Regions from separate parts of the Homo sapiens genome. Here region 1 is linked to region 2. Evidence: fine-mapped expression QTL. A gene starts in region 2. The other region holds a variant in brackets. All regions are shown on one strand. Distances are between the middles of the regions. Region 1 has its middle 30 kb from the start of TUBA1A. Region 2 holds the start of LMBR1L (limb development membrane protein 1 like).

The links. PIP is the estimated chance that this variant, and not a neighbour inherited with it, causes the effect. A credible set is the group of variants that fine-mapping cannot tell apart.
Region 1: its variant is the best candidate, but not a certain one, in a credible set for the expression of LMBR1L in whole blood (TOPMed, PIP 0.58).

What each region holds. Positions count from the first base shown.
Region 1 is chr12:49,216,613-49,221,986 of GRCh38, forward strand. No RefSeq gene overlaps it. Among named protein-coding and RNA genes, the nearest start is that of TUBA1A, 30 kb to the left of the region's middle. The variant G/A (reference allele first, on the strand shown) is at 3,384.
Region 2 is chr12:49,108,569-49,113,942 of GRCh38, forward strand. It overlaps LMBR1L (limb development membrane protein 1 like), which reads right to left and starts at 2,279. Exons shown (of 17, transcript NM_018113.4): 1 at 1,916-2,279. The coding sequence starts at 1,987. RefSeq lists an enhancer at 1,448-1,987 and a silencer at 2,845-3,025.

The DNA of each region.
Region 1 (5,374 bases), 110 kb after region 2:
TCCCGTAGAATTTCTTTTCAGAACAATTCACATTCTACAATCTTTTTTTTTTTCTTTTTTTTTGAGATGGAGTCTTATTCAGCCGCCCAGGCTGGAGTGTAGTAGTGCAATCTCGGCTCACTGCAACCACCATCACCTGGGTTCAAGCAATTCTCCCGTCTCCTGAGTAGCTGGGATTACAGGCACCCACCATCATGCCTGGCTAATTTTTTGTATTTTAATAGACATGGGGTTTCACCATGCTTGCCAGGCTGGTCTTGAACTCCCAACCTCAGGTGATTCGCCCACCTTGGCCTCCTAAAGTGCTAGGATTACAGGTGTCAGCCAATGCACCTGGCCTCTACAATCTTTTACGTTGGTGTAGATCCCACATACCTCCCATGGCCATGCAGATAGTGTCAGCTTCTGCAGTCTCATATTCCTCCCTGACAACAATAATTTGTTTTCTCCATAGAAACTTGAGCAATAAGGATTTTGCCAGGATGCAGTCCAGGGACCATGTGGGACTCAAAGCTTAGGTCTTCCAGATAAGCTGGTTGATGCCAGTTAGTTTGTAGAGTAGGGGGAGGGGCAAGCATGGTAATTGGTAGAATATAAAATATAATAATACTGTGCGTCTAGAGTATGGCCTTAGGTCTTTAATTACCTTCTTCTCTCCTTTATTTTTGTCTTGCACTCTGCTAGACATCTTGTTGCCTCAACTGCCAACAGGCCAGTACAGTAATTTATGTTTGTTTATTTGAGGCACATGCATTCAAAAACAGAAAACTACATAAAAGAGGATTTTTGGTTTTTTTGAGACAGGGTCTCGCTCTGTCACTCAGGCTGGAGTGCAGTGATGTAGTCATAGCTCACTGTAACCTCAGACTCCTGGGCTCAAGTGATCCTCCAGTGTCAGCCTCCAGAGTATCTAGGATTGCAGGCGTGTGCCACCATACTTGGTTAATTTTTTTTATTTTTATTTTTTGTAGAGATGGGATTTCACTATATTGCCCAGGCTGACCTCAAACTCCTGGTCTCAAGCCATCCTCCTGCCTCACATTTTGCTTTCTAATGCTCATTCCTGGTGTCTTTATGAAGTGAGAGAGACAATCCTCTTGATTCCTCACCTGGGCTCCAGGAGGCAGGTGAAGACATGGGGGCAATGGTGAAATGCACCTCAAAAATTGGGAAGTAAAATTGTCCTAATAAACATTTAAAAATTATTATTATTGGCTAGACACGGTGGCTTACGCCTGTAATCCCAGCACTTTGGGAGGCCGAGACAGGCGGATCACGAGGTCAGGAGATCAAGACCATCCTGGTTAACATGGTGAAACCCCGTCTCTACTAAAAATACAAAAAATTAGCCGGGAGTGGTGGCAGGCACCTGTAGTCCCAGCTATTTGGGAGGCTGAGGCAGGAGAATGGCATGAACCCAGGAGTCGGAGCTTGCAGTGAGCTGAGATGGTGCCACTGCACTCTAGCCTGGGCGACAGAGCGGGACTCCGTCTCAAAAAATAAATAAATAAAAATAAAAATAATTATTATTATCTGTACAAATACACCTCTTTTTCCTCAACCAAAGAGTTTCTGATTCTCTTAGGCATCTAAAAGAGATTTATATGCAACCTATTAAATCAGCAAAAATTAATTGTTAAGCATCCACTCAGTGTTTGATGACATGTAAGCAATGTGGGAGATAATAATACTAACTAATGTTTATTGAGTTCTTAGAATTTGCTAGCTGTCTGTTGGGCTCTGTACATGAGTTGCCTCATTAAGGCCTATGGCCACTCCTATGAGATAGGTCTTCTTCTTTTTTTTTTTTTTTTGGACAGGGTCTGGCTGTATCGTCCAGGCTGGAGTGCAGTGGCACGATCTAGGCTCACTGCAACCTCTGCCTCCTGGGCTCAAGACATCCTCCCACCTCAGCCTCCCAAGTAGCTAGGAACACAGGCATGCAACACCACGCCTAGCTAATTGTTGTATTTTTTTGTAGAGATAGGTTTTCACCATGTTGCCCAGGCTGGTCTCAAACTCATGAGCTCAAGTGATCTACCCACCTCGGCCTCCCAAAGCATAGGGGTTACAGGCGTAAGCCACTGCATTCGGCCTATGAGATAGATACTTTTATTATCTCCATTTTAAATATTAGGAACTGGCCAGGGAAGGTGGCTCACACCTGTAATCCTAGCACTTTGGAGGCCGAGGTGGGTGGATCATGAGGTCAGGAATTCGAGACCAGCCTGGCCAACACAATGAAACCTTGTCTACTAAAAATACAAAAATTAGCTTGGCGTGGTGGCAGGTGCCTGTAATCCCAGCTACTCGGGAGGCTGAGGCAGGAGAATCGCTTGAACCCGGGAGGCGGAGGTTGCAGTGAGCCGTGATTGCACCACCGCATTCCATCCTGGGCAACAGAGCAAGACTCTGTCTCAAAAAAAAAAAAAAAAAAAAAAAAAAAAAAAGAAAAGAAGAGAAGAAGAAAAAAAAATTAGGAACTAAGACATAGAGAAGTTAAGCCATTTGCCCAGTGCCATACAGCTAGCAAGTAGGAGAGCCAGGATTTGAGCATAGTCTGATTCCAGAACGTATGATCTTAAAGAAGTAGAAATTGGCCGGGCGCGGTGGCTCACGCCTGTAATCCCAGCACTTTGGGAGGCCGAGGCGGGTGGATCACCTGAGGTTGGGAGTTTGTGACCAGCCTGACCAACATGGAGAAACCCTGTCGCTACTAAAAATACAAAATTAGCTGGGCGTGGTGGCACATGCCTGTAATCCTAGCTACTCGAGAGGCTGGGGCAGGAGAATTGCTTGAACCCTGGAGGCGGAGGTTGTGGTGAGCCGAGATCGTGCCATTGCACTCCAGCCTGGGCAACAAGAGCGAAACTCCATCTCAAAAAAAAAAAAAAAAGAAGTATAAATTATGGTTCCCGCACTCAACAAATTTATAATCTAGTTGAGGGAAACGTGACTAACACACATGAAAGCAACAGTAGATTATGTAAGATGAGCATATATAATTAAGTGCTAAATTGAATGCTTCAGAAGTTCAGAGGGCACAAGAAGGCGTGGAACAGGCAAGCAGCCTTTCATGAGGAATAACCTTGAAGTTGAGCCTTAAATGGTCCCTGAGATGAGCGTAGGGAATGCACTGCTGCAGGTGAGGTGGTGGCAAAAGCGTTACAAGCAGGAGTGAGCAAGACTTTGTCCTGGAGGATGGAGCAGCCAGCCTGACCACAGCTGGGTGGAGCCAATGGGAAGGGCTGGACCAACTAGGAAGGCCTTTAAAGCAAGGCAGAGTTTAGGCTTGGTGCATTAGTAACCAGAGAGTCGTAAAAGGCCCTCCATCAATAAAGCAATATTATAACAGATGTTTAAGGAAGACACGTTTGGCAGGA[G/A]GATCTATCTTTCTTATTAAAATTGTAGATGACAGCCAGGCGTGGTGGCTTACGCCTGTAATCCCAGCACTTTGGGAGGCCATGGCGGGCAGATCACGAGGTCAGGAGTTCGAGACCAGCCTGGCCAACATGGTGAAACCTCGTCTCTACTAAAAATACAAAAATTAGCCAGGTGTGGTGGCATGCGCCTTTAGTCCCAGCTACTTGGGAGGCTGAGGCAGGAGAATTGCTGGAACCCGGGAGGCAAAGGTTGCACTGAGCCGAGATCACACCACTGCACTCCAGCCCAGATGACAGAGCAAGAATCCGTCTCAAAAAAAAAAAAAACAAAAAAAAACTGTAGATGGCACAAAGCTTGAAAAAACATGAAATGACTAAATTGGTATCTCAAATTCACTGCTTATTTTGTTTGATCTTTAGGCTTTATTTCACATTAGCAAGTTCTGCCAAATCTTCCTCCTTAATATTTTTCCAATTTGTTTATTTCTCTACATTTCCCTTGCCATTACTTCAGTTCAGCCACAATCCTAGGGGTGAGGGGAGGTGTCAGAGAAACCTTCCTGGAAAAGATGACATTTTTCCAGAGTCCTGAATATTTAGCAAGAATTAGCCAGGTACCAAGGGAAGGGCTTGAAGGGGGAATGGAAGTGAGGAGATGGGAAAAAGAAGAGGGGAAGGATCAAATAATGGGCAGAAGAAAGCAAAAGCAAACAAACAAAATAAAATATAGACTTTGATGCTATAATAAGGAAAATTAAATGTGGCATTAACTTAGTGAAAAGGGTCACTGGTGGGTGGTGCAGGCCCAAAGAATCCAGACTAGAACACTGATGACGCCTTGCTGTGTGGTATCAAAACATTTGGTTGAAATGTCACTTCTTGTACCCTGGAGGGCAGACCACTCCCAGTGAAATGGAAAGGAAAGGCCCTTGAAGAGGTGACATGCAGTCAGGGCCCTGAACACACAGGTTGAATGGAAGGAACCATGTTGGCAAAGGCACAGAGTCTGGTGGTGCAGGGAGGAGAATCCTGACTTCCAGGGTTGAGCTCTGGGCAGATTAAACTGTTGATGGGGGTGCAGAGAGCAGGGAAATGGACCCAAGTAGGGAGAACTAAGTTAGGGAGAGGGCCCAGCTGAAGACTGCTCACCTACTTTAGAGAAATGTTGGCAAATGGGGAAGTGAATTTTTTATTTTTATTTTTGAGACAGTGTCGTTCGTTCTGTTGACCAGGCTGGAGTGTAGTGGCACAATCTCAGCTCATTGCAGCTTCGACTTCCCAGGCTCAAGCCATCCTCCCACCTCAGCCTCTGAGTAGCTGCGTGTACAGGTGTGCACCACCCTGCCTGGTTAATTTTTGTATTTTTTGTAGAGATGGGGTTTCACCACATTGTCCAAGCTAGTCTTGAACTCCTGAGCTTAAGTGAGCCACTTGCCTCTACCTCCCAAAATGCTGGGATTACAGGTGTGAGCCACTGTGCCTGGCCAAAATTTTTAATTCTCTTTCAAAATCCAGTAAGAAATAGCACTAGATTTTTAAATAGCTTTGTTGAGGTAAAAATCACATACTATAGCGATTCACCTATTGAAAGTACACAATTCGCCGGGTGCGGTGGCTCATGCCTGTAATCCCAGCACTTTGGGAGGCCGAGGCACGTGGAGCACGAGGTCAGGAGATCAAGACCATCCTGGCTAACACGGTGAAACCCCGTCTCTACTAAAAAGTACAAAAAATTAGCCAGGCGTGGTGGCAGATGCCTGTAGTCCCAGCTACTCGGGAGGCTGAGGCAGGAGAATGGTGTGTGTGAACCCGGGAGGTGGAGCTTGCAGTGAGCTGAGATCGCGCCACTGCACTCCAGCCTGGGCGACAGAGCAAGACTCCCTCTCAAAAAAAAAAAAAAAGAAAGAAAGAAAGTACACAATTCAACTATTTTTAGTATATTCAGAGAGTTTCACAGACATCATCAAAATCAATTTCACCACTCCCAAAAG
Region 2 (5,374 bases):
AAAAAAAAAAAAAAAAAAGGCCGTGTGTGGTGGCAGGTGCCTGTAATCCCAGCTACTCGGGAGGCTGAGGTACAAGAATCACTAGAACCTGGGAGGCGGAGGTTGCAGTGAGCAGAGATAACGCCACTGCACTCCAGCCTGGGCGACAGAGTGAGACTAGGTCAAAAACAAAACTAAACAAAACAAAAAAAACACCAGAGAGTCTCAAGAAGAGAAGTTATTGTGTTTGAGATAGGCCAAGAATACAAGATCAGTCTCATGGGTCTTCCAGTCTCCAGAAAGGGCTGACCCCACAAGGAAAACACATACAGCTATCTGTACAAGGAGGGAAGAATCCACAGAGACGCAGGAGAGCCATCGATCTAGAACAAAGTCATAGCTTTTGATATTAGGGAAGCAGAACAGAAGGAGCCACTCAGATTGTAGCTGCAAGATTTTTATAGCCTGTGTTCTGCTCTGGGCTTGCGTAATAGCCAGGAAGGTGGGAGGGCTCAAAAGGTCAGGCTGGAGTTCCACGCAGTTCCAAGAAGCTAGGCTGCTCTCTAGCCTCTAGATGAGAGCCAGGTGGGGGAGGCACCATAAGTCTTCAGGCTACCCTTAGCCAGCACTGATGTTCTCAGCTCATGGGACTAAAGGATTAGGGAGACATCCAGGAGGCTGCTTCTGTCCAAGGTCTCATCCCTCCCTGTTCTCTAGGAATTTGAGCCTCCAGCCCGACACTGTCTCAAGGCCTGGGTGTGCCTCTGCAATATGCCCAACCCACCATGTGGACTGTCCACCAAGAAACACACAAGGAAGGCTTGCCGAAAGCACACTTCTACTGGAGTTGCACACACAGACTAATATACTTTCCTGTCCTCACAGATAAGAGCAGACCTAATTATGTCCTGGCTCAATTTACCCCTCCTCCAATCAGGCTGCCCAGGGCTGGCTAGAGCCCAGCCTGAGAAAAATGAAGGGAATGACCCCAACAATGGATTCCCACACTTACTAACATTTCTTTCTGTTTTTCCAAACCATTCCCTTTCCATTTACTATCTGGAGATGAGGGTTGCCCTGGTGAGCTCTGGGGAAGGACACAGGAGAAAGGAGAGAGGTGAAAATTCAAAGCAAGGCTGAGAAAGATATGACACCCTAAGCTCCACTGGGTACCCCTACCCCAGAATTGAGTAGTCCACTTCTGTGCGCAAGGTTCAGTTGTCGCTCTAAGTGGCAGGGAGGGCGTAAGGAACAGCAGCCAGGTACCCTCTGAAGCCCTGGGAGGACCACTCACTGGGGAAACCCCGGAATGGCTGAGAGGCTGGGAACCCAGCCTTGCAGGGTTTCAAACAAACACCAATGAGAAAGAAAAAAGACGGGGGAATACTTGGTTGTTCCTCATCTCTACATATTAGGATCCACCCCAGCAAGACTCCTTTCTTCCAAAGCAGATGACCCACCAAGTCCCCAGGTTCCTCCCGTCTGCCATCCCTACACCTCCCCTCTTTTCTGGAATCAAGCTCAGTGTGACGACGTCTCCCCTTCATCCAACGTCAGCTGAGTTTGCCCTCAACCCAGTTTGAGAAGCAAACCCATCCTTCCCCGATTATCAGACTAAGGCAGACTCCGCAGGCTCTCAGACCCCGGAGACCCCCAACAGGAAGACGCGCTGGGTGAGGGGTGGGAGGGAGGGGCAGGGGAGGGGCGTGTGGGGGAGGAACGGAAACGACGGCCTTTGTTTATCGCTCAGGGACCCAGCTGATCCCATCTAGGGGATCGCTAGCCGGGCACCCGCCCTTCTGCCCGGACGGAGGCCTCCGTCGCCCGCCGCTGGCCCAGGCATGGTTTGACGGCACTCTGAGACCAGGTGGGCTCGGACCCCAACCTCCCCGTCTCCCGCAACCCCCGCTTCTCCTCGCCGGGGCCCCGCACTCACAATACACTCGCGGATCCTCTCGTGGAATAGCTGTTCTCGCACGGATAGCACTTCGTAGTCAGGTGCTTCCATACTCTGCTCAGCATGACTGAAGCCGAGGTGCCTCTGGGCCCGGGGAGGACGAGCGGGGAGGAAGCCGCCGCCGCCAAGCACCCAGACCCAGCCTAGGGGCCTTTCCTCGCAGCCTGCGACAGAAACTCGGGGCAGTCTGGGGCTCAGATACAGTCGTCCGGACGCCCCGCCCTTAAAGGGGCAGGCACCACCCGCCTCGTTTTAAAGGGCTCTGTCCTCCCTTTGCTCCCCACTCTTTAAGGTCGGGTCGCGCTCACGTTTCAATGCAAACACCCGCCACTAGGCTCGCTACGAGGAAGCGCCGCTGAGGGTCCATCTTTTTAAGAGATCTAGTGACGACACAAGGGATGGGCGGGTTCCTTCCAGGGGGAGGAACTCATTGGCTCCTGGAGAGCTGTCGTTCATCGCTGGAGGAGCGCTGATAGGCTCGCCCTGTGGAGGAAGGCGGGATCTTTTGGGCCTACCGCTGCCCATACTAATAGAGCAACTGTCTCTCTTATCTGGGAAAAGTGAAGGTTCCTGGATTTTAGTAGCAGCCAACATTTTAGTATGACCTTGGTTAAATGAACCGTTTGAAGCAGGCCAGCCAGGCAGGATGTGAGGGCACCCTAGGGGTTCTGAAATGTACCGCTGCCCAGTAACCGATGTTCTGTAGTAGCATTTTCTGTGTGTTTGTGTTGGGGTGCCCCTCCCCACATCCCCACCCCGCTTTCCCGCTGCCAGGAGTTTTCATTCAATCATTTTTGTGGAAGACCTAGTGTGTGCTAGAACAAATACTGAAAAATACTGGAGAGAGGACTACAGAAATACCTTGCAACTTTGTGAAGAAATGCCCACAAGGATCACTGAAGAGTGGGGCTGAGTCAAACATTAGCTAACCACTTACTATGTGCCATTCACTTTATAGTCGTTATCTCAGCCATGTTACCCAGGCTGATCTCGGACTCCTAGTCTCAAAGTGATGGGCCTCCCAAAGTACTGGGATTACAAGGCGTGACCCACCCAGCCTATTATCTCATTTTTAACGTCACAACAACACTTCAGAGGAAGATGTTGTGATTCAGCTTTTATTTCTTTATTTATTTTTGAGACGGAGTTTCGCTCTTATTGCCCAGGCTGCAGTGCAATGGTGTGATTTCGGCTCACTGCAACCTCCGCCTCCCGGGTTCAAGCGATTCTCCTTCCTCAGCCTCCCAAGTAACTGGGATTACAGGCATGCGCCACCGCGCCCAGCTAATTTTGTATTTTTAGTAAAGACGTGGTTTCTCCATGTTGGTCAGGCTCATCTTGAACTCCCAACCTTAGTTGATCCGCCCGCCTCGGCTTCCCAAAGTGCTGGGATTACAGGCGTGAGCCACCACGTCCGGCCAAGATTTTGTGTGTGTGTGTGTGTGTGTGTGTGTGTGTGTGTGTGTGTGTGTGTGTGTGTGTGTGTGTCTTGGAAGTAGACAGGATTTAGACGAAGGGAGATTTTCTTTTAAGTTATTTATTTTTGAGACAGTCTCACTCTGTCGCCCAGGCTGGTGTGCAGTGGTGCGATCACGACTCACTGTAGCCTCCAACTCCAAGGCTCAAGTGATCTTCCCATCTCAGTCTCTTGAGCAGCTGGGATCACAGGCAGGCACCAGCACACTTAGCTGATTCTGCCATGTTGCTCAGTCTGGTCTTGAACTCCTGGGCCCAAGCTGTCGGCCTGCCTTGACCTCCCAAAGTGCAGGGATTACAGGCGTGAGCCAACAGACCCGACCTCCTCTAAATTCTTAAAGCAACATCCAGCTGCATAGTTCAGTGAGCAGTTAAAAATTGGCCATTAGCCGCGCGCGGTGGCTCACGCCTGCAATCCCAGTACTTTGGGAGGCTGAAGCGGGCGGATCAAGAGGTCAGGAGATCGAGACCATCCTGCCTAACACGGTGAAACCCCATCTCTACTTAAAACATAAAAAATTAGCCGGGCGTGGTGGCAGGTGCCTGTAGTCCCAGCTACTCGGGAGGCTGAGGGAGGAGAATGGCGTGAACCCGGGAGGCGGAGCTTGCAGTGAGCCGAGATCGCGCCACTGCACTCCAGCCTGGGTGACAGAGCGAGACTCCATCTCAAAAAAAAAAAAAAAAGAAAAGAAAAAGAAATTGGCCATAAGACCGGGCGCGGTGACTCATGCCTGTAATCCTAGCACTTTGGGAGGCCGAGACGGGTGGATTACCTGAAGTCAGGTGCTGAGAGCAGCTCGGTCGGGGAGACCCTAACCCAGCGGCACTAGAGGAATTAAAGACACACAGAAATATAGAGATGTGAAGTGGGAAATCAGGGGTCTCACAGCCTTCAGAGCTGAGAGCCAGGAACAGAGATTTACCCAACAGCAAGCCAGTCATTAGCATTGTTTCTATAGATATTAGATTAACTGAAAGTATCCCTTATGGGAAACAAAGGGATGGGCAGAGATAAAGGGATGGGTTGGGCTAGTTATCTGCAGCAGGAGCATGTCCTTAAGGCACAGATCGCTCATGCTATTGTTTGTGGTTTAAGAACGCCTTTAAGCGGTTTTCCGCCCTGGGTGGGCCAGGTGTTCCTTGCCCTCATTCCAGTAAACCCACAACCTTCCAGCGGGGCATTATGGCCATCATGAATATGTCACAGTGCTGCAGAGATTTTGTTTATGGCCAGTTTTGGGGCCAGTTTATGGCCAGATTTTGGGGGGGGCTTGTTTCCAACAGTCAGGAGTTCAGGACCACCCTGGCCAACAGGGTGAAACCCTGTCTCTACTAAAAAATACAAAAATTAGCTGGGCATGGTGGTGGGTACTGTAATCCCAGCTACTTGGGAGGCTGAGGCAGGAGAAACACTTGAACCTGGGAGTTGGAGGTTGCAGTGAGCTGAGATCACACCATTGCGCTACAGCCTGGGCAACAAGAGCGAAACTCCGTCTCTAAAAAAAAAATTGTCCATATATGCATTGTTTCATAATATTTGTCCTCTTGAGCTGTTATTTAAATATTTTGTATTGTTTAACTTTACCTTCATTTATGTCTTTCCTCTTTTCCTCCTGTCTTCTCCTCTTCAAGAATTAGAAACTCATATTTGGCTTTTTTTTTTTTTTTTTTTTTTTTTGAGATGGAGTTTCACTCTTGTTGCCCAGGCAGGAGTGCAATGGTGCGATCTTGGCTTACCGCAACCTCCACCTCCCGGGTTCAAGCGATTCTCTTGCCTCAGCCTCCAGAGTACCTGGGATTACAGGCACTCCCCCATGACTGGCTAGTTTTGTATTTTTAGTAGAGACGGGGTTTCTCCTTGTTGGTCAGGCTGGTCTCCAACTCCTGAACTCAGGTGATCCGCCCGCCTCAGCCTCCCAAAGTGCTGGGATTACAGGCATGAGCCACCGTGCCAGGCTCATA